Homo sapiens: one gene and its partners. The protein of the gene in region 1 purifies or fractionates together with the protein of each later gene. This does not show direct contact. Each region holds a gene or a part of one and is shown in the gene's direction. Other genes may lie near its edges.

Region 1 (5,562 bases):
TTTTTGTAGAGACGAGGTCTTGTGATATTGCCCAGGCTGTTCTTCAACTCCTGGGCTCAAGCAGTCCTCCCACCTTGGCCTCCCAGAATGCTGGGTTTATAGATGTGAGCCAGCACACCGGGCCAAGTGAAGAATCTAATGAATGTGCAACCTAATTGTAGCATCTAATGAATGTTCCACCATTGCTGGAAAAATTGAGATGGAAAACAAACCATCTCTAGTTGGCCAGCGTCTTGCTCTGTTCACAGTCTCTGGAAAAGCTGGGGTAGTTGGTGAGCAGAGCGGGACTCTGTCCAACAAGCCCCACAGCCCCTCAAAGACTTTTTTTTGTTTGTTTTGAGCAGACAGGCTAAAATGTGAACGTGGGGTGAGGGATCACTGCCAAAATGGTACAGCTTCTGGAGCAGAACTTTCCAGGGATCCAGGGACACTTTTTTTTAAAGCTCATAAACTGCCAAGAGCTCCATATATTGGGTGTGAGTTCAGGTTGCCTCTCACAATGAAGGAAGTTGGTCTTTGTCTGCAGGTGGGCTGCTGAGGGTCTGGGATCTGTTTTCTGGAAGTGTGCAGGTATAAACACACCCTCTGTGCTTGTGACAAACTGGCAGGTACCGTGCTCATTGCTAACCACTGTCTGTCCCTGAACTCCCAGAACCACTACATCTGGCTTTGGGCAGGTCTGAGATAAAACGATCTAAAGGTAGGCAGACCCTGGACCCAGCCTCAGATCCAGGCAGGAGCACGAGGTCTGGCCAAGGTGGACGGGGTTGTCGAGATCTCAGGAGCCCCTTGCTGTTTTTTGGAGGGTGAAAGAAGAAACCTTAAACATAGTCAGCTCTGATCACATCCCCTGTCTACTCATCCAGACCCCATGCCTGTAGGCTTATCAGGGAGTTACAGTTACAATTGTTACAGTACTGTTCCCAACTCAGCTGCCACGGGTGAGAGAGCAGGAGGTATGAATTAAAAGTCTACAGCACTAACCCGTGTCTCTGTAGCTTTTTTGGAGCCAGAGCCACTGTGTATGTGTGTGTGGGTTTGTGTGTGTGTGTGTGTGTGTGTGTGTGTAAGAGAGTGGAGGAAAAGGTGGGGTACTTCTGAAGACTTTTATTTTTTTTTAATTAATTTATTTTTTTTCAGAGATCGAGTCTTGCTCTGTGGCCCAGGCTGGAGTGCAGTAGTGTGATCTCGGCCCACTGCAAACTCCCACCTCTCGGATTCTGGTGCCTCAGCCTCCCAAGTAGCTGGGACTACAGACGTTCGCCACCATGCCCAGCTAATTTTTGTATTTTTAGTAGAGACGGGGTTTCACCATGTTAGCCAGGCTGGCCTCGAACTCCTGACCTCAGACAATCTGCCCGCCTCGGCCTCCCAAAGCGCTGGAATTACAAGCGTGAGCCACCGCGCCGGGCCCTGAGGATTTTTATTACTCGTGATTGGGAGTACTGTCCCTACTTAGATCTGACAGCCCCTTGTTGCTGGACTTGTGTGAGTTGTGGTCCCTGTTTTTCTGGTTCCCTGTTTCTATCACACAGGAGAGAGAGACCTTCCAGGACCCTAACGTCTGAGCCCCCAGTTGCTCACTCCTGGACTGTCAGTATTGGCCCCCAGTCCTCTCCTCCCACTGGGACCTCCGCGTGGGCAGAAGAGGCGGAGGAGGGAGCGGATTATCACTGAACTACATTTCCCGGAAAGCTATGAGGTTGGCAGCGTCAGTCAGCTACAGAGAAAGAGGCCCCAGGGCATTTTGGGAGTTGTAGTCTTAGGGCTAAAATGTCCACTTCGTGGCTCGACAGCCGTTTCCAAGGACCGCGGTGGGGGCGGCAGCGGCCTGGGGGGCCGGATCTAGCCCAAAGCCTGGGTCCTGGGGCAAGGGGAGGGGAGGAAACTGAAGGCCTGAGTCCGGTCCTTGACTCTGGAAGCCAGAGTAGTCAGGAGGCTTCCTCTTCCCTAGATGCTGGGAAAATTCTAGTCCAAAAAGGCTGCAGCCTCTGTGACGTCATGGAGCGATGGGCGGGACCTCCCTTTGTTGCAGTCCAATCAGACAGAGTTGAGTTTCTGGGTGGGGCCGAGGAAAACCCCAAGGAATATCTATAAAGGAATTCGGGCCCCTACGTGAGAAGCTCGGAGGGGGTGGTTTCAGGAGTTCCTTGTGGAGAGGGGATCGTCCGTGACTCAGACCCCGTCGAAAAGCTCTCGATTTCACGCAACCAACCTTACCCTCGTCCCCAACACAATCCTTGATTTTACCCCTGGGAAAATTAGCGTAGGTGGTCATGACCCCGGCTTCCTCTTTAAAAGCCCTCAGAACCTGGACCGGGCTCCTCAATGAACCCTAGTGTTAGAGGCCACAAATCGGGAACCAAGGTCGGGGAGCGGCTGTTTAGGGTGCATCACTGTTCAGGATGCATCGGGGCTCCTTTTTCTAAGCGGAAGGGTGCGCCCTGCAAATTGGGAGCCCGTTAGTTTTGGGGAAGGGTGAACAAGGGCCCCCTAGGTCTAGAGGACCGCATGGAGTCTCGCTTAAGTGTTAGTGGGGTCCTCAGTTCTAGGAATCTGGTATGTGTTTTGGTTTTGAAGGAGTTCCGAGTTTGATAATATCGTGGTTGGGTCTGTGTTAGATGTTTATTGGTTTGGGCATTGAATCTTCAGCTTGAGGTTCAACAGGTTTTGGGGGGCTGGCGGGGGAGTGCCTCGGTGTTGCTCTTAAGGGTTGGAGTTCAGGCTCACGTCAATCTGGGGACTTGGAAAATTCCACAGTTTGGGATTTTGGGAAGGGGCGCATGGGGTTGGGAGATTCCAGGTTCTGAGTTTGGGGACTTATGAGTGATTCCTGTTTAATAGTTTTTCTGATCTCTCAGTTGGGGGATTCAGTGAGAACCCTAAATTTTGGGTCCCCTGGATTGGGGCTCAGTTTCACACTTCGGAGGCATTTGATGAAGGACATAGGTCCTCTTTATTTGGAGATTTCCTGAAGATCCTCTTTTCGAGGTTTGCGGACCCCATGGATAGGCGGCCCAGTGGGATTTCTTAAGATGGATTTTGGCTTTTCTCCGTTTAGCGTTCTCCTGCTCTCGGTTTGGGGTGAGAGCACCCTTCCTAACGGTCTTCGGGAACTGTGCGCGCCGGCTGCAATGGGGCCGCATTTTACCCTCCTGTGTGCGGCGCTGGCCGGTTGCTTGCTTCCTGCCGAGGGGTGTGTTATATGTGACCCGTCTGTCGTGCTGGCGCTAAAGTCCCTGGAGAAAGATTACCTGCCTGGCCACCTGGATGCGAAGCATCACAAAGCCATGATGGAAAGGGTAGAGAATGCCGTGAAGGATTTCCAGGAACTGTCGCTTAATGAGGATGCCTATATGGGGGTCGTTGGTGAGGGCAGGGGGGACCACGGACCCCTGGGTCCTGGGAAAGGAGGGAGATAAGACCAGGGGAAGGAAGAGGCTGACAGCAGGGTCTCCGGGATTCGGGAATGGAGAAGGCTGAGATGCAGATTCCGAGGTTCCCCGAGGCTAGTAAATACCGTTTTCCCTATCCTCGGCTGGCAATTTTATGTAATAAAACTACAACTCCCAGAAGGCAACGGGCGGCTGAGTCCTTAACCAGGCCTATCTTTGCCCAGTGGCCTCATGGGTATTGTAGTTTCTAAGATTAGGCGCGCCAATGAGACAGTAAGGCTGGAATCTGGGGTTATATCTCCTCTGACAGATGAGGCCACACTGCAAAAGGGGTCCTGGAGTTTGCTGAAGGATCTGAAACGCATCACAGACAGTGATGTAAAAGGTAAATGCATCAAGGGGGTGGGAGTCCCGAATCTCTCAGAGAAGCCAGCGTTAGTGATGCCTGGTCTCTTGGTCAGATACTAGGCTGTGGACCCAGACCGCCTAGATTCCAATGCCTGCTCTGCCACTTCCTAGCTGTACGGCCTTGAGCAAAGGACTTTGAAGCTCCCTTGGCTCTAAAATGCTTCCTCAGTTGTTCAGTTTAAATGTGTATTGCTGGCCGGGCACGGTAGCTCAGGCCTGTAATCCTGGCACTTTGGAAGGCTGAGGCAGGCAGATTACTTGAGCTCAGTAGTTCAAGACCAGCCTGGCCAACATGGTGAAACCTTGTCTCTACAAAAAATAGACATATGTATACATATTAGCTGGGCATGGTGGTGTGTGCCTGTAGTCCTAGCTACTTGGGGGGTTGAGGCGGGGGGATTGCTTGAGTCCAGGAGTTTGAGGCTTCAGTGAGCCACGATTACACCACACACTCCAGCCTGGGTGGCAGGGTAAGACCCTCCCCCATCCCCCAAAATATGCATTGCCTAGCCCAGCAGCTGGCATTATGTTAGACGGTCAGTTGTAGCGCCCTTTCCTGAGAAGGCCAGGAAGTAGACTGCCAGACTCTGCAGGCAGAAGTAAACTTCCAACACCTCACACGTGGGATTGGGGGTTCCTGTGTCTTCCCAGGCGATCTCTTCGTGAAGGAGCTATTTTGGATGTTGCACTTGCAAAAGGAAACCTTTGCCACCTATGTTGCTCGATTCCAAAAAGAGGGTGAGAGAAGATGGGAGTCGGTGTCCCCCAGCTCCTCTTTCCACTATCCAAGAGTCCTTGTCTCCAGCCCCTTACTTCTCCAAGCCCAGTTCCTCAGCTTCCCCAACTGCCTCCTCCTTCAGACCCAAGTCTTTTCTCCCTCGAACCCAAAAGCCCAAAGCCCAGCTCTTCCCCCAACCCCCTCTTCCATCGTCTTTCATTTAGAAATCTGACTCTGTCATCTCTTTCTTGCTCTCTTTTTTTCTCTTTTGACACAGCTTATTGTCCCAACAAATGTGGTGAGTCTGGATTACAGAAGTTAACCCTCATCCTGCCCTCTGAATAGTCAACCTCCCCACTCGCCTTTTTGGATCCTGGTGGTTTTGTCATTCTCTGCCTTGGAGAGGTTCCTGGGTCTCCAGTATTCTTTCTGCACCATGGATTTCTTGGGGAGCAGGTCATATTCTACTTACACTCTTTTTTTTGAGACAGTCTCACCCTGTCACCCAGGCTGGAGTGCAGTGGCACGATCACGGCTCACTGCAACCTCCACCTCCCAGGTTCAAACTATTCTCCTGCCTCAGCCCCCTGAGTAGCTGGGATTACAGGTGCCCGCCATCACACCCAGCTAATTTTTGTATTTTTAGCAGAGACGGGGTTTCACCATGTTGGTCAGGCTAGTCTTGAACTCCTGACCTTGTGATCCGCCCGCCTCGGCCTCCCAAAGTGCTGGGATTACAGGAGTAAGCCACCGCATCCGGCCTCTACTTACAATCTTTACTGAGCCTTGTTGGAGCCCACTTACTACTTACCTGCGTCCTGGTCCTGTGCCTTCGTCTGACCATCTAGGAATGTCATAGATGATCTGGCCCCAGCCCTTAGCCCTGACCTCTCCTTTTAGCCATGCCCCTTAGTGGGCAAATACAAGCCTTGACCCTGCCCCTCCAGGTGTGATGTTGCAAACTCTGATCTGGTGCAAGAACTGCAAAAAGGAGGTTCACGCTTGTCGAAAGTCCTACGATTGCGGGGGTGAGAGAACTGG
Region 2 (4,684 bases), on another chromosome or scaffold:
CTGAACCAGCCAGTAGGGGCACACGCCAAAGGAAAACGTAGCCTCTGAGTCCCTCCATCTGGGCGTCTTTACAGCCCTGACTCCCCCAGCTGCTGTTAACCATAGTGGGAAATCATGGCTTCTGTCAGGATGAGCAGTCTCAGCTGATTTAATGAAATGTACTATTGAGAGTTGAAACATATTAGGGTCCTCTTAGAGGGACAGAACTAATAGGATATATATATACACACAGATATATACACACATACATATATATACATATATATACACACACACATATATATACATATATATAGATACACACATACATATATATACATACATATATATACATACATATATACACATACATATATACACATACATATATACACATACATATATATACATACATATATATACACACATATATACATATATATATACACACATATATATACATATATATATACACATACATATATATATATACACATACATACATACACACACACACACACATATATATATAAAGGGGAGTTTATTAAGTATTAACCCACATGATCACAAGGTCCCACAATAGGCTGTCTGCAAACTGAGGAGCAAGGAAAGCCAGTCAGTTTCCAAAGCTGAAGAACCTGGAGTCCGATGTTTGAGGGCAGGAAGCTTCGAGCACTGGAGAAAGATACAGGCTGGGAGGCTAGGCCAGTCTCACTTTTTTATGTTTTTCTGCCTGCTTTATATTTGCTGGAAGCTGATTAGATTGTGCCTGCCAGATTAAGGGTGGATCTGCCTTCCCCAGCCCACTGACTCAGATGTTAATCTCTTTTGGCAACACCCACATAGACACACCCAGGATTAATACTTTGTATCCCTCAATCTAATCAAGTTGAAACTCAGTATTAACTATCAGACATGTTAACTACAAGAAAATCAGCAATCAGGCCAGGCACAGTGGCTCAAGCCTGTAATCCCAGCACTTTGGGAGGCCGAGTCAGGTGGATCTCTTGAGGCTAGAAGTTCGAGACCAGCCTGGCCAACATGGTGAAGCCCCATCTCTACTAAAAATACAAAAATTAGCTGGGCACGGTAGTGCACACTTGTAATCCCAGCTACTCGGGAGGCTGAGGCAGGAGAATTGCTTGAACCCAAGAGGCAGAGGCTGCAGTGAGCTGAGATCATGGCACTGCACTCCAGCCTGGGCGACAGAGCACGATTCTGTCTCAAAAAAAATAATAATAAATAAAGAAAAATCGAAAACTCCACAATCACTTTAATTCCTCTGTTAATAGTATAACAACTAGCATTTATATCATCATGTCCAGTTTTATAACAGCCTGTTCTTTGGAGTCAGGCTGACTCAGCAACACTAAATGGTAACTTTTTAGCAGGTCATTTAACTTCTTAGTTACCCCATCTGGAAAGTGGGTGAAGTGATACCTGTTAAGTGTGTATTTAGCACAAAGCTGAGTAGGAAGACACAGTAGGTCTTCAGTTATTGGTAACAAGGATAGAAGTCCCATAGCAGCCCTGGAAGGTTCAGTATGCTAATGTCCCCTCTTTACAGGTGAGGGTATGGCTCAGAGAGGCTGAGTGACTTGCCCAAAGTCACACAGCACATAAGAGTCACAACCAGTCGTCTGTCCCCAAGTCCTCCGTCCTTCTGTCTCCTCCATGTGGCCTCTTTATTTGAATTATTACTGTGAACGTACTTCCTGGAACCATTATTTCTGGTTCAAAGAATACATTAAAATACTCTGGCTGCTGGAAGGAAAGCTATTTCATTTTTATGCTAAAGGACATTAAATCAGAGGGGAATGCCAACTGGCCCAGGGTCATTGTGGTCACAGTGAGTCACTGAAGACAGATGAGACCACCACCCATCCCAGCTCCTCTTCCAGGACTCTGCTTCCCCCTGGGTGGGCCTTCCTGAGAGCTGTTGGGCTGACCCAACCCCTTCTGAAATCATTAGATGGCCACGGTGGCCCCTTCTTTTCTGGACATCAAGGTAGTGATGGGGGCCAAGTGTTTCTGCAGACCCTTGTGTTGGAAAGGGCGACTGAGGGTCACACATGGCAGTGTTCCAACCGGACCCCACTGGCCGGTTGAAGCATACGGCTTATTTTTTATTTTTTATTTTTATTTTTGAGACAGAGTCTCACTCTGTTGCCCAGGCTGGAGTGCAGTGGTGCGATTCGCCCAGGCTGGAGTGCGGTGATGCAATCTCGGCTCACTGCAACCTTCGCCTCCTGGGTTCAAGCAATTCTCATGCCTCAGCCTCCCGAGTAGCTGGGATTACAGGCGTCTGCCACCATGCCTGGCTCATTTTGGATAATTAGTAGAGAGAGGGTTTCACCATGTTTGAGACCAGGCTGGTCTCGAACTCTTGGCCTCACGCGATCTGCCCACCCCTCAGCCTCCCAAAGTGCTGGGATTACAGGTGTGAGCCACTGTGCCCAGCCAAGCATACGGCTTCTTACAAAGCTGCCAGTCTATTTCCTCTTGAACCTAAGCCATTACCTTAGAAGTGTCCTCCAGTTTCCCAGAATGAGGGCAGACGAAGAGCACGCCATTCTCCAGCCTCAAAACGGATTAAAAGGCTAGAACCCAAGGAGGAGAACACTGTGTGAGCCTTTGATTTTTTAATCGCAACTGAGATAGTCCTAGAGGGGAGACTACAGTAAACACAGTTACTGGGTAAGGCAAGGTTCTAAACCCAACCTCCCTGGATTTCTGGGGGTCCCCTGGTTAGGCTTCAGAGTGTAGTGCAAATGTCAGTCTGTGACTTTCATAAAAGGAATCCATGACCCAGAATAGATGAAGCCAATGAAGGAATGAATTTTTGCCAAGAGTGCAGTGAAGATCTAGATGGTGGCTTATAAACAACAAAAATGTAGAACTCACAGTTCTGAGGCTGGAAGCCCAAGATCAAGGTGCCAGCAGATTTGGCGTCTGGTGAAGGCCTGCTTCTTGTTCATAAATGACACCTTCTCACTGTGACTTCACATGGTGAAAGGAGGTGGCCAGGAGCAGTGGCTCTTGCCTGTAATCCCAACACTTTGGGAGGCCAAGGTGGGAGGATAGCTTGAGGCCAGGAGTTCGAGACCAGCCCGGTCAACATAGCAAGACCCCATCTTTACAAAAAAAAGTTTAAATTAGCTGGGCATGATGGTGCACACCTATAGTCTCAGCTACTCAAGAGGGTGAGGCTGGAGCATCTCTAGAGCCTAGGAGGTGAAGGCTGCAGTGAACTATGGTGGAGCCACTGCATTTCAGCCTGGGCAACAGAACAAGACCTTGTATCTAAAAAAAAAAAAAAAAAAAAAAGATGTCAGGCCAGGTGCTGTGGCTCATGCCTGTAATCCCAGCACTTTGGGAGGCTGAGGCAAGCAAATCTCTTGAGGTCAGGAGTTCGAGATCAGCTTGGCCAACATGGTGGAACCCCATTTCTATTAAAAATACAAAAATTCGGCCAGGTGCAGTGGCTCACGCCTGTAATCCCAGCACTTTGGGAGGCTGAGGCGGGTGGACACGAGGTCAGGAGTTCAAGACCCGCCTGGCCAAGATGGTGAAACCCCATCTCTACTAAAAATACAAAAATTAGCCTGGCACAGTGGCAGGTGCCTGTAATCCCAGCTACTCGGGAGGCTGAGGCAGGAGAATCGCTTGAACCCAGGTGGCAGAGGTTCCAGTGAGCCAGGATCGCGCCACTGCACTCCAGCCTGGGCGACAGAGTGAGACTCTGTCTCAAACAAAACAAACAAAAAAATTAGCCGGGTGAGGTGGTGGGTGCCTGTAAGCTACTCCAGTGCCTCCCAGCTACTCCGGAGGCTGAGGTAGGAGTATCATTTGAACCTGGGAGGTGGAGGTTGCGGTGAGCCGAGATCACACCACTGCATTCCAGCCTGGGCAACAGAGAGAGACTCCATTTCAAAAAAAAAAAAAAAAAAAGGGAAAAGAAAAAAAGATGCAAAAGGAGGTAAAGAAGCTCCCTTGGGCCTGTTTTATAAGGATGCTGCTCCCATTAGGACCCCACCTTCATGATCTGATCACTTTCCAAAGGCCCCACCTCCTAACACCATCACCTTGGGGTCAGGTTTCAACATGGGAATTTGCAGGGACACAAGCCCACAAGCCTTCAGACCATAGCACGGGCTCCAGAGGTGTGAGGCAGGTCAGGTGCTTTAGAAGTCAAAAACTCTCAGTAAGGCAAATCACCCCCTATCTCCTGGCCTTCCCTGAATCTTGCCTGCCTTCACTCTCCTTTCTCTGGTTTTCCTACAAGGTCTGAAAACTCCAAATGGCTGTGAGCTGGTGGTGGGGGGAGAGCCCCAGTGCTGGGCAGAAGGGCGCTGCCTTCTCTTTGATGACTCTTTCCTGCATGCTGCGTTCCATGAAGGTGAGTGGCTGCCTTTCCCACTTCCTTTTTTTCAATGAATAGACTTTTATTTTTTTAGAGAAGTTTTAGGTTTCCAGAAAAATCAGGCAGAAAGTACCAAGGAGGCCCCTTCATATCACCCCATAACACATATACACACACAGTATTGATGCGTTATTATTACCTAAAGTTCATGGTTGACATTAAGGTTCACTCTTGGTGTTGTCCATCCATTCTGTGGGTTTCGCCAAATGGATAATGACACGGACCTACCATGACAGTATCATACAGAATAGTTTCACTGCCGTAAAAATTCCCACTTAAAGA
Region 3 (5,056 bases), on another chromosome or scaffold:
TCAGGCTGTGCTGGGGCGGGGAGGATGTTCTGAGAGCCACCTTGGGTGGGCAGAGACCTAGCCAATGGTTCTCACGACCCATCCTCTAGCCCCTGCCTGTCCCCCATTCCTTTTTTTTTTTTTTTTTGAGACAGAGTTTCATTCTTATTTCTGAGGCTGGAGTGCAATGGCACAGTCTTGGCTCACTGCAACCTCCTCCTCCCGGGTTCAAGTGATTCTGCTGCCTCAGCCTCCCAAGTACCTGGGATTACAGGTGGCCGCCACCACGTCTGGCTAATTTTTTTGTATTTCTAGTAGAGACAGGATTTCACCATGTTGGCCAGGCTGGCCTCGAACTCCTGACCTCAGATAATCCGCCTGCCTTAGCCTCCCAAAGTGCTGGGATTACAGGTGTGAGCCGCTGTCCAGAGGAGGGAACAGAGGACGAAACAGAGATGGGTGATAACTGGTTCACTGTCACCCATCACTTTGGTGGCAGAAACAGGACGGGAGCCCAGGCGTTGACTCCCAGCCCAGGGCTCATTTGTCTGTGTTCCATGGAGCACTGATTGCTGCTCCATGGGTCCCCCATCCCAAGAGGCAACACAGGCCCAGAGCAGCCGGAAGGGAGGACAGATGGATCAGGAGGAGCCGAGGCTGGCAGTGTTTGCCCATTTCGCTCCCCTGGCCTGGGTCCTGCCCCAGGACCTGTTACGGAATTACTTGCCCTTTACTGCCCTAAACTGCCCCTGGGCTGGGTGAGGAGGAAGGAGGGGACTGGGCTCAGGACCAGGACCTGCAGGACCAGCGGCCAATGAGTGCGGACAATGGGGAAGGCAGCCAGGATGGTTGGGGGTGGTGGTGGGCGGGGCGTGCCTTTAGCATTTGGCAAAGTAGGGACTAGGAACTGCTGACAAATATTTTGTACCCTTACTTCAGAGCAGAAAGGCTATTTGGGAGCAAAATTCTCTCATGGAATGAAGAGCCTGTTAAGACCTTTTTTCACCAAGTAAAACATGAGGAAGCTGTGGATGTGCAGTTTCTTTCACACCTGCAAATTACACAGCAATCATTCACCCAGCAAAGGAACATTTGCTCCTAGGGGCTGGAGGGAGCTGCCGTAGGGAGGGTGAGAGGAAACTGAGGCTTCCAGAGACACCCTGTCTGCAGACGGCAGGTAGCTGTTGCATGCACCTCATCCCATTTAATCCTGGATGTTACTGGCTCCATTTCACAGATAAGGGGACTGAGGCTCAGTGAGGTTGAGAGGAGGTAGTGGGGCTGGATTACAGGGGAGGGGTCACTGATGAGTGAGAAAGGTGGGTTGGGGGACTTCCCTGAAAGCCTCTCTTTCTCTGGAACCCAGGCATCTGGGCCTCCTACTTTTCTGGCTGCCCCCAAATGTCTTTGCTAAGCAACGTAGCTGAACAGTGCCAAGAGATGGCAGTCCCTAAGGTATAACAGGAGGCACCCCCTTCTCCCCATGGGAATTGGATGCAAAGAAGGGAGAAGCCCATGACGATGTTCCCTGTGGGCACGTGGCCAGGAGTACTTGAGAAAGGCAGGGGGCTGAATCGGGACAGGAGCTGGTGTGAGGTGCGGTGGGCAGGAAGCAGCAGGCCTGGGGGCTTTCAGCCTTCAGGAAGCAGGCTGCAGGGAGAGGTGTGCAGGACACAGAGCAAGAGGAGGCAAACTCAAGCCAGTCCTGGCTCTTTGGCCCTGGGCTCCTCCACTGACCCGGGACGGGAAAGAAGCCGTCATCCCTCCGTGGAGAGTATGCAGATGGGCATCAGTGGAGGGTCCAGGGACCAGAACAATGATGACGTGCGTAGAAGGGGACTGCAGGGCCATCAGATTCAGCTGCATGTGAGGAGGAATAATCAGTCATTGAACATGTAAACAACTTTGCAGAAAATCAACCCCTCCATCCTTTCCCTGTCGCAGCTTTCTGTGGCCTTTTCTGACCCCGATCTGTGTATAAACAGAGCTTTCCCAGTTTGTCATCATCATGCATATGCAATTTAGGCCCCACCTTTCATCCACATTATTTCCCTGACATTTTGCTGTGAACACTGGACTCCTCGTGTTTATTATTTTAAATCAGCGCTTTATAGTCAGCGAGTTTTTCTAGAGAGGAAACGGAAGCCCAGGGCTGGGCCAGGGGTGGGTAACTGGGTAGTTTTATATGCACATGCAGGCACACACACACACACACACATGCACACACACACACACATGCACACACACACACACATGCACACACACACACACATGCGTGCTCACTCCTGGGCTTGGTCTGCCCAGCCTTCTGGGTAAACCCTCCGTCAGATGGAATGGCTGGGATGCCAGGGTTATTGGCATTCTGCAGTTTCTTCATAAACAAACAGCAAATCCCACGAGGGTGGTCTAATGCTGGGTAAATATTCCAACACCACCCTCTGCCCCTGGCTGCCCCCCCACCAAATTACACATTCTTTTTGTTTTTTCTTTTTTTCTTTTTCTTCTTCCTTTTTTTTTTTTTCAAATAGAGACAGAGTTTCACCATGTTGCCCAGGCTGGGCCTGAACTCCTGAGCTCAGGCGGTTCACCCACCTCGGCCTCCTAAAGTGCTGGATTACAGGTGTGAGCCACCATGCCCAGCCATCACCAAATTACACGTTCTTGATAATAGATTCCACGGGTATGTGCTATCACCAACACGGAGACTCAGAGACACATTGTGCGTAGGTCGAGGCCCATGAGCAGGGACAGTGAGGAGGTGGCTGTGTTTACTGAGCTCTTGCTCTGTTACAGTTTAGTGCCTTCTGGCAAGAGGCAAATATTATTTCCATTTTACAGATCAGGAAACTGAAATGGGTGACAACTGAAATGACTTGTCCAGGGCCACATGCCTAGTAAGAGGCAGAGCAGGATTGGAGCCCAGGTCAGTAGGATTTTGGAGTTCCTTCTCACTGGAGTCATAAAAGAACCCATTAGGCGGTGACCAGTAGCTCATGCCTGGAATCCCAGCACTTTGGGAGGCTGAGGCAGGAATATCACTTGAGGCCAGGAGTTCAAGACCAGCCTGGGCAACATAATGAGACCCCATCTTCATACACACACACACACACACGTACACAACCACCAAAAAAAATTCAGCTGGGCTTGGTGGTGTGTGTGTGTGTGTTTTTTTTTTTTTTTTTTTTTGAGTCTGTCTCCCAGGCTGGAGTGCAATGATGCTATCTTGGCTCACTGCAGCCTCCGCTTCCCAGGTTCAAGCAATTCTCCTGCCTCAGCCTCCCAAGTAGCTGGGATTTCAGGCACCCACCACCATGCCTGGCTAATTTTTTTTGTATTTTTAGTAGAGACAGGTTTTCACCACAGTAACCAGGCTGGTCTCGAACTCCTGACCTCAGGTGATCCACCTGCCTCGGCCTACCAAAGTGCTGGGATTACAGGCATGAACCACAGCGCCCAGGCTGATGGTGTGTGTCTTGTACAGGAGGCTGGGGAGGGGGATGGCTTGAGCCCAGGAGTTTGAAGTTACAGTGAGCTCTGATCATACCACCCCACTGCAGCCTGGGGAACAGTGAGACCCCATCTCAAAAAAAAAAAAAAAAAAAAAAAGAACCCTTATATCTTCCCTCGGAGCCTGTTGAGATAGTTCCAACGGGGTTAGGGTTTTGGTTTCTCAACCCACAAGCATTAGAAGGAGCAATTTGGGGGATGAGGAGGTGTTTTTGGGGGCATCTTCAAGGAACAGAGATGTCTGGGGTGTTGAGTGTTGCAACCAACAGCCCTCATATGCACCTTCTCTGGCTGTAGGAGGCGTTGTTACATTATAGGACAGCATAGTAACTGATGTGCATAATGGTGACCAACTCATCAAGAAAATATTAAGGCCAGGCGCGGTGGCTCACACCTGTAATCCCGGCACTTTGGAAGGCCGAGGTGGGTGGATCACGAGGTCAGGAGATCGAGACCATCCTGGCCAACATGGTGAAACCCTATCTCTATTAAAATACAAAAAATCAGCCGGGCGTGGTGATGCACGCCTGTAGTCCCAGCTACTGGGGAGGCTGAGGCAGGAGAATTGCTTGAACTTGGGAGGCAGAGAGTGCAGTGAGCTGAGATTGTGCCTGGTGACAGAGGGAGACTCTGTCTCACAAAAAAAAAAAAAAAAGAAAAGAAAAGAAAGGAAATATTAAATTGCATTTAGCATAAAGTGTAGTGTAGTATCTAAAAACATTTTCCTCGGGAATGGATAACACAAGTTTGAACAAATAAGGATTATATTTGGAAATTCAGTAATGTGGGATGGCTCATTACTCAGTGTTACTGAGTATATGTCCATTTATTCACCATGTGTTTTAGTTATCCACTGCTGTGTAACAAACAGCCCCAAAATTTGGAGGCTTAAAAGAGTAACAGTTTAAACCTGGGCAACATGGCAAAACTCTTGTCTCTACAAATGGTACAAAAATCAGCCAGGCATGGTAGCATGTGCCAGTAGTCCCAGCTACTCAGAAGGCTGAGGTGGGAGGATTATGAGCCCCGGATGCTGCAATGAGCCATGATCGTGACACTGCACTCCAGCCTGGGTGACAGAGCAAGACCGGTCTCAAAAAAGAATAAAAAAAGAATGACAGTTTATTGTTTCTCATGATCCTGTGGGTTGACTGTTCAGCTGGGTGGTTTTTGTGCTTCACGTGGCATGGGCTGGGGTCACTCATTTGTCCACCTGCGCTGTTTCATTCACCTGCAGCATTCAGTTGCCAGCTATGCTGGCAAGTTCTAAGAAGCCTTTACTCATGTCTGGAGCCTCAGAGCTCCTCCTCCTGACCTCTCCATGTGGCTAACTTGGGCTTCCTCACAGCATGGTGGTCTCAGAGAGAAGGTGGAAGCTATCACAGTTTTTAAAGGTTAGGCTCATCACTATCGGCTACAAGAAGTCCAGGCTAACTCAGATGCAAGAGGAAATTGATTCTATCTTTTGATGTTTGAGTAGCGTGTGTAAGGGAGGGAATGAATTGATAGCAGCTGTCTTCTGAGGCTGTCTGAGAAACCAGGAGGCACATGGGGGATGCTGGGGAGACGG
Region 4 (5,554 bases), on another chromosome or scaffold:
GAGGAAGGTAAAACTAACTAAAACGAACTTCGAAATGCAAGAAATAAACACAAGCATCATCTGAAATTGTTCCCTTAAGAAGTCAGCCCTAACAGTTTCTTATCTATTATAGCAGCTGAATTATCTTGAAACTGATATTGTGGTCAGAAAGTTAAGAAGATAACCCCTCTCCTACACTCTTGGCACAAAACCAGGGCATATCTATACCTGGAACATAATGTGTTGTACTGTTGGTTGAGTTTCAAGAAAAGTCCAATGAGGTTGGAAGCAGTTAATATGAGGATATCTGAAAAGATCAAGGAGATTAGGTATTCCCTACTCCTTCCATAAGGAGGTACTGAAATGGCAGAATTCTGCAATGAGAGATGGTGATCAGCAAGCCGAGGGGACAGGCCTCAGAAGAAACCAGACCTCCCCACACTTTGATCTCTGATCTTGGCCTTCAGAACTTCGAGAAAATAAGTTTCTGTTGTTTAAGCCACCCAGTTTGCAGTATTTTGTTATGGCAGCTCTAGCTGACTAACACACATGAGAACACATATGATCAAATGATTTAAAATTATGAAGGGTCTAGAAGAGAATGTGATCATCTCAGAATACCTCTAAGTCAGGGTTTCTTAAAGCAAGGTCTGCATACTACTTGCATCAGAATCACCTATGACGCTTTTTAAAAAGCAGGTTCTCAGGTCCACTGGACCTAGATTATTAAAATGTTCTGGTATGATGCTGAAGAATCTGTCTCTTTGGTAGACACTTCAAGTGTTGTTTTTGTACACTAAAGAGCCAGAGGTCCTGCCCAACCTCTGGCTCTTTTCTGAGCCTGAAAATGAATTCTGGGCCTGGTACTAATTGCATTTCATCAAGTGCTGCTGTGTCTGGTCCTCTGGCAGATGGTCCCTGATCCAGGAATCACGTGTAAATCCCATTGTAGGTTATCTCTCTCCAGGTGTCAGCCAACGTTTACGCAGCATGTGGGAAAGCTGAATTGCATGGACCAGATGGAATCCTTAGAGTTTATTCTTGATTGTGGAAATAAATATGTACCTCACCTATCTTACTGAAGAATATAATGACATATTTTGAATAATAAAGTATATATATTATCTCTCTCATGAGATTTATTTAAAGATCTTACTACCTTGTCAATAAAGAGAGAATGCAAGGAATAGAATGGGGCATATCTTTCCTTCACCTGTGGACCTAAGAGGAACTGAAATTAGAGAAAGTTGAGAGTCCAGAGCAAACGCTGTGATGAACATTTTCAAAATAGGCAGAATAGGTGGCATTCTGATTCAAATATGGCAGTTCCCTAGGGAGTGTGAAATCTGCCCTGCCCCATCCCCTCCATTTACAAATGTGCTTAAGGGACATAAGGTTTTATAAACAGGATTTTTAAAAACTAAAATTTAGGCAGATCATTTAAGAATGCTCAAGGGGGTAGGTCAATGGACTATTTCTCTATTTTCCTTCAGGTGGTCCAGCCTTTGAACCAGAATGCAGCTATAGTATCCCAAGTGACGGGGTCTGTCTAGGAGTTCCCATGGCCACTGTTTTTTGTCTTTTCGGTTTTTCTTTTTATGGCGGGCGGGGGAGGGCGGGCGGGTGAGTACTTACTTAATGCCAGGCACTTGGTTGTTTTTTCCTTCTTGACTAACCAGATTTCAGTTTCTCTGTGTAGACCATTCATTCCCACTGAGTTTCTTGGTGGGGTGGTGGGGGCGGGGGCGATGAATGGGAAAGTGGAATTGCCATTAATGTTCCAGCTGCTTTCCTGAAACAAGACTTTTGACCGTAAAAAGAATGAATTTGAAACTCTAGACAATAATACACTGCAGAGGTTAAGAAGAAAAGCCATGAGTGCAACCGGGTTTCATTAAGAATGAAAAGTGGACATTTAGCCGTCAAGGAGACAGGTTCCTAGTTTGGGCAGAGAAGAGAGCCCTAACAATGAAAGGCGGCCGTGTTGGCTGAAAGGGGGCTCTCAACTGAAACCAAGGCACTCCTGGGGTGTGAGGATGGGTGTTCATTCCTAGATCTTTCCGAGCGGCCCTTTCCCTCAGTATGTTCTGGACTCACTGAGGTCCTGGCCGAGCGTCCAGGTAGCCCCGAGGGCCCCGACTCGCTGGCGCAGGGGTAGGGGGAGCGGGCCAGGCGGGGCAAGCGGGCCAGGCAGCGGCGGCGGCGCTTTCATTAGAGGGCGCTGTGGGAGCGGCTCCGCCGCAGTCCCGACTCCCGCCGCTTCCTCCCGCCGCCCCTCCCCGCCAGTCCGGGCGAACGCGGCCGGGCCCTTGGGGACCGAGTCTCGGCGCCGCCGGGGAACGGGCGCGGGCCGCGCCACAGCCGGAGCGGGGCAGGGCCCCGCCACCGCCTTCTTCCGCCGGCCCCGCCGCCGGCCATGCATTCTTCCGGCTCCTCTGACTCCCAAAGCCCCGGCTGGGGCCCGGCCAGCCCGAGGTAACCTCCGGCTCCGCGGTCGCAGGCCCCAGAGCGGCAGCGGAGCCGGGCCAGGGGAGGCGCTGGGGGCGGGGAAGGGGGTGTCGTCGTCGCGTGGCCCGGGGAGGCGGCAGCGGCCTGAGGGACGAGGGCGCGGTAGGCCCCGGGGAGGAGGCGGGGGCGCGGGGCATCCGCCCGCCTCCCCGGGACCCGCCCGGGTGACAGGTCCGGCCTCTGAGTCCCCGCCGTCCCTCTGTCCGCAGGCAGCCGCGAGGGGAGTAGGGCGCCAGCGCGCCCGCTCGCGCAGCGCCTCGGGCCGCTTGGGCCGCCACCGCGTCCATGACCGCGACCCCTCGGCGGGGGACACCCGCCCCCGCTCTCCGCAGCCGCCCGCCGTCCGCGCCCGCCGAGGTGAGCCCGGCGCGCGGGCCGCGCCCGCCGCCACGACCCTTCCACATCCGCGGAAACCGCTGCAGGCTCCACCGGCTCCCCGCGCTGCGGTCGCCTCTTCTCTGCCCCTTTCATCATCCCCTGCTTCCTTGCCCTCTGGTCGGAAATCTCATTCTCTTCATCCCCAGTTCCTTGGCTTTTACCTCTTTCTGGCTTTTGCTCCCTTCCCCCTACTCCTGTCCTTCCTCTTTTTCGCATTATAACCCCCTACTTTCTTCCTCTCACCTTGTAAGCTTTTTTTCTAGGCCCCCCATTTTTTTTCTTAAAAAAAAAAGGGAAACAAAAACCCTATTGCTACAAATGAGAATTTTGAGGGTAACTCTTCGCTAGAGCCAGAGACCTTTTAAAGGAATGCATCGGTGTGCAGGAATCGTGGTGGTGAGGAGACTGAGGTCCTCAGTATCTGGGAAATCTTATTGAGGGGACCCTGTTTCGGTCATGTCACTTGTGTCTTCAGTTTGGAGATCCTGAGGTTGTCTGAAGCGAGTGGATCTATTTTTCTAAGTCCAATAGACGACCGCAGTGAGACACGGTGCGGGGACGGCCACCGATTACTGAATGGGAATTGTGTTATCATTTGCTAAATATATTGTGACATACTTCGTGCCTCGGTGAACAGCTCCCTTGACCTTGTGCGGCTCCTCCTCCCTCGCTCTCTGTCCCCCTCTGGAATTTCCCCTGAGAGATCACCGAGGTACTACACCCGGAAAGCTTCGACCCTCGCTGTTTTATTTTGTGCTGGGGGCGATTTCTATGTTGGTGACTGTTTAGATGTATTTAATGAATTTTCCTTTTTAAGTGAATTTTTCTTTCACCCCAGAAAGACAGGACGGAGTCCAGTGTGAGAATGGCTATAACTTTGGAAGAAGCTCCGTGGCTGGGCTGGCTCTTGGTGAAAGCACTGATGAGGTTTGCCTTCATGGTCGTCAACAACCTGGTTGCTATTCCATCCTACATCTGCTATGTAATTATACTTCAGCCCCTTCGAGTGCTGGACAGTAAGCGGTTCTGGTATATCGAAGGAATCATGTATAAATGGCTTTTAGGAATGGTAGCTTCCTGGGGATGGTATGCTGGATATACAGGTAAGAGTGAGAACACTTTTCTTTAATGCATAAGAAAAAATTTGTCAGGAACCATGATTAAATGTATATTACACTTTGGGTTGAGGATGCTTTCATGTCTTCACTATTGAAAAAAATAAAAAGAAAACAGTTCTATTGGGTTTCTCTTCAGAATCTCAGGAAGACCAATGTTTTCAGAAGTATAATTTCATAATTATGTATTGGTAAATTTCTTAGTGTTTTTATTGTGATTGACATACATTTATTAAAACTGGTCTGCAAAAGCTCTGGTAGAGGAATAGGAGTGCGTTGTATAGGACTCGAGAGCTTATAAAGTGAAGATGTAAGATATTTCATCTATTTCATGGAAGATGCCCATAAACATTGGAAATTTAGAAAAAGAATGGGACCATATTTGTGCTAAGATAGTTTAATAAGTTTCTTCATCATTTAACGTGATATTGTACTGTTAGCCTTTTGAGCAAGCAAAAATGGCTTTCTTTTCTCTTACGTATGTTTCTTTTGTTTATTAGAATCTATATTTTATCTCATAAATCTGAGAGTATTAAATATAAAAAATTAAGTTAACTTTGTTAAGCTAATTTATCTTCTGAGTGTCTTTAAATAGATTGTGATTTCTGCCTTTAAATTGCATTTGGGGAAGCAAGAGTAACACTATTCAGAAGTGGACTTTTATAGAACTAAATGAGAAGTGTTTATTTTCTGAGATAAACCTTATATGCTTTGAGAACTTATGCCCTTGCTGTGAAAATTCTGTATCGTTTATTGTATTTATTTGATTTTTTTCCCTTAAGAATTAAGATAATGAAAAAATCATAGAGGTTTTTAGCACTTGTCAGATGTGGAGGCTTTTAGCACAGAAATTCCTACCTGATAGGCAGGCTCCTTGAAGATCATGCAGATGCTGTGGTCAGTAGAGGCTGTAGTTCATAGCTTGGCAGAGTGAGGAGGGGTACTCCCAGGGTCAAGCAGTATGGCAGTTCTCCATCTGAAATTCTGTCTCCCTCTTTCCTGCCTAGGCTGCACCTGCACATTTTATCCACACACGCAAGAGAAGGACTGATAGTATACAGCTTTTATGGAGTCTGACAGACCCTTGCTATGTCTGAGTATTCTCAGTTGCCCCAGATGAAGCCTTTTCTCCTTCAGGCAGTGGCATTTATTTATTTATTTCTCCTTCAGGCAGTGGCATAATAATGCAAGAGCTGAAGCCCCTGGGATAGTGTATGCGTTGCTTCCTTGTCATCTGTCTTGTTGAGATTCCAATGCTTTTTGGATATAGTAGGTGTGCTTCTAGCCCTTTTTTAGGACTTGGTGGTAGCAATAGCAGTGGTAGAGAAAAAACGAAGTTCTAATCTATGGTGCTGAATTCTTACCTGAATTGCACTGCTGTCTTAGAGTTGCTTGGCTTGGTATAGTTTGAGTGTTCCCAAATATATGTTATATGGTACTAGTGGCTTTATTCTTGTATAGTATACTTAAGTTTGCTTGTTTTAAATTAGCTTATAGTATTTTCAGAAACCCGTTCTAGAAGTTCATTCTGCTTAAAATGAAATTACTGAAATGTTTGTGCGTGTGTATAGTGT

Evidence for each region. The genes of interacting proteins can lie anywhere in the genome.
Region 2: the proteins of IZUMO1 (region 1) and ASPHD2 purify together in Homo sapiens (affinity purification with mass spectrometry; one large-scale study listed by BioGRID and IntAct). This does not show direct contact.
Region 3: the proteins of IZUMO1 (region 1) and ADCY3 purify together in Homo sapiens (affinity purification with mass spectrometry; 2 studies listed by BioGRID and IntAct, with this or other methods). This does not show direct contact.
Region 4: the proteins of IZUMO1 (region 1) and LPGAT1 purify together in Homo sapiens (affinity purification with mass spectrometry; 2 studies listed by BioGRID and IntAct, with this or other methods). This does not show direct contact.

The regions. Positions count from the first base shown.
Region 1 is NC_000019.10:48,743,432-48,748,993, reverse strand, and holds the start of IZUMO1 (izumo sperm-egg fusion protein 1 isoform 1 precursor), read left to right. Parts: upstream 1-2,084; 5' UTR 2,085-2,559; intron 2,560-3,061; 5' UTR 3,062-3,134; coding exon 3,135-3,369; intron 3,370-3,705; coding exon 3,706-3,780; intron 3,781-4,454; coding exon 4,455-4,541; intron 4,542-4,798; coding exon 4,799-4,819; intron 4,820-5,468; coding exon 5,469-5,549; exon of another isoform or gene 5,550-5,562. UniProt on the Homo sapiens protein: Essential sperm cell-surface protein required for fertilization by acting as a ligand for IZUMO1R/JUNO receptor on egg.
Region 2 is NC_000022.11:26,438,195-26,442,878, forward strand, and holds part of ASPHD2 (aspartate beta-hydroxylase domain-containing protein 2), read left to right. Parts: intron 1-4,264; coding exon 4,265-4,378; intron 4,379-4,684. UniProt on the Homo sapiens protein: May function as 2-oxoglutarate-dependent dioxygenase.
Region 3 is NC_000002.12:24,909,747-24,914,802, reverse strand, and holds part of ADCY3 (adenylate cyclase type 3), read left to right. Parts: intron 1-5,056.
Region 4 is NC_000001.11:211,827,473-211,833,026, reverse strand, and holds the start of LPGAT1 (acyl-CoA:lysophosphatidylglycerol acyltransferase 1), read left to right. Parts: upstream 1-2,263; 5' UTR 2,264-2,454; intron 2,455-2,688; exon of another isoform or gene 2,689-2,772; coding exon of another isoform or gene 2,773-2,982; exon of another isoform or gene 2,983-3,234; coding exon of another isoform or gene 3,235-3,261; exon of another isoform or gene 3,262-3,577; intron 3,578-3,703; coding exon of another isoform or gene 3,704-3,730; coding exon 3,731-3,968; intron 3,969-5,554. UniProt on the Homo sapiens protein: Lysophospholipid acyltransferase involved in fatty acyl chain remodeling of glycerophospholipids in the endoplasmic reticulum membrane.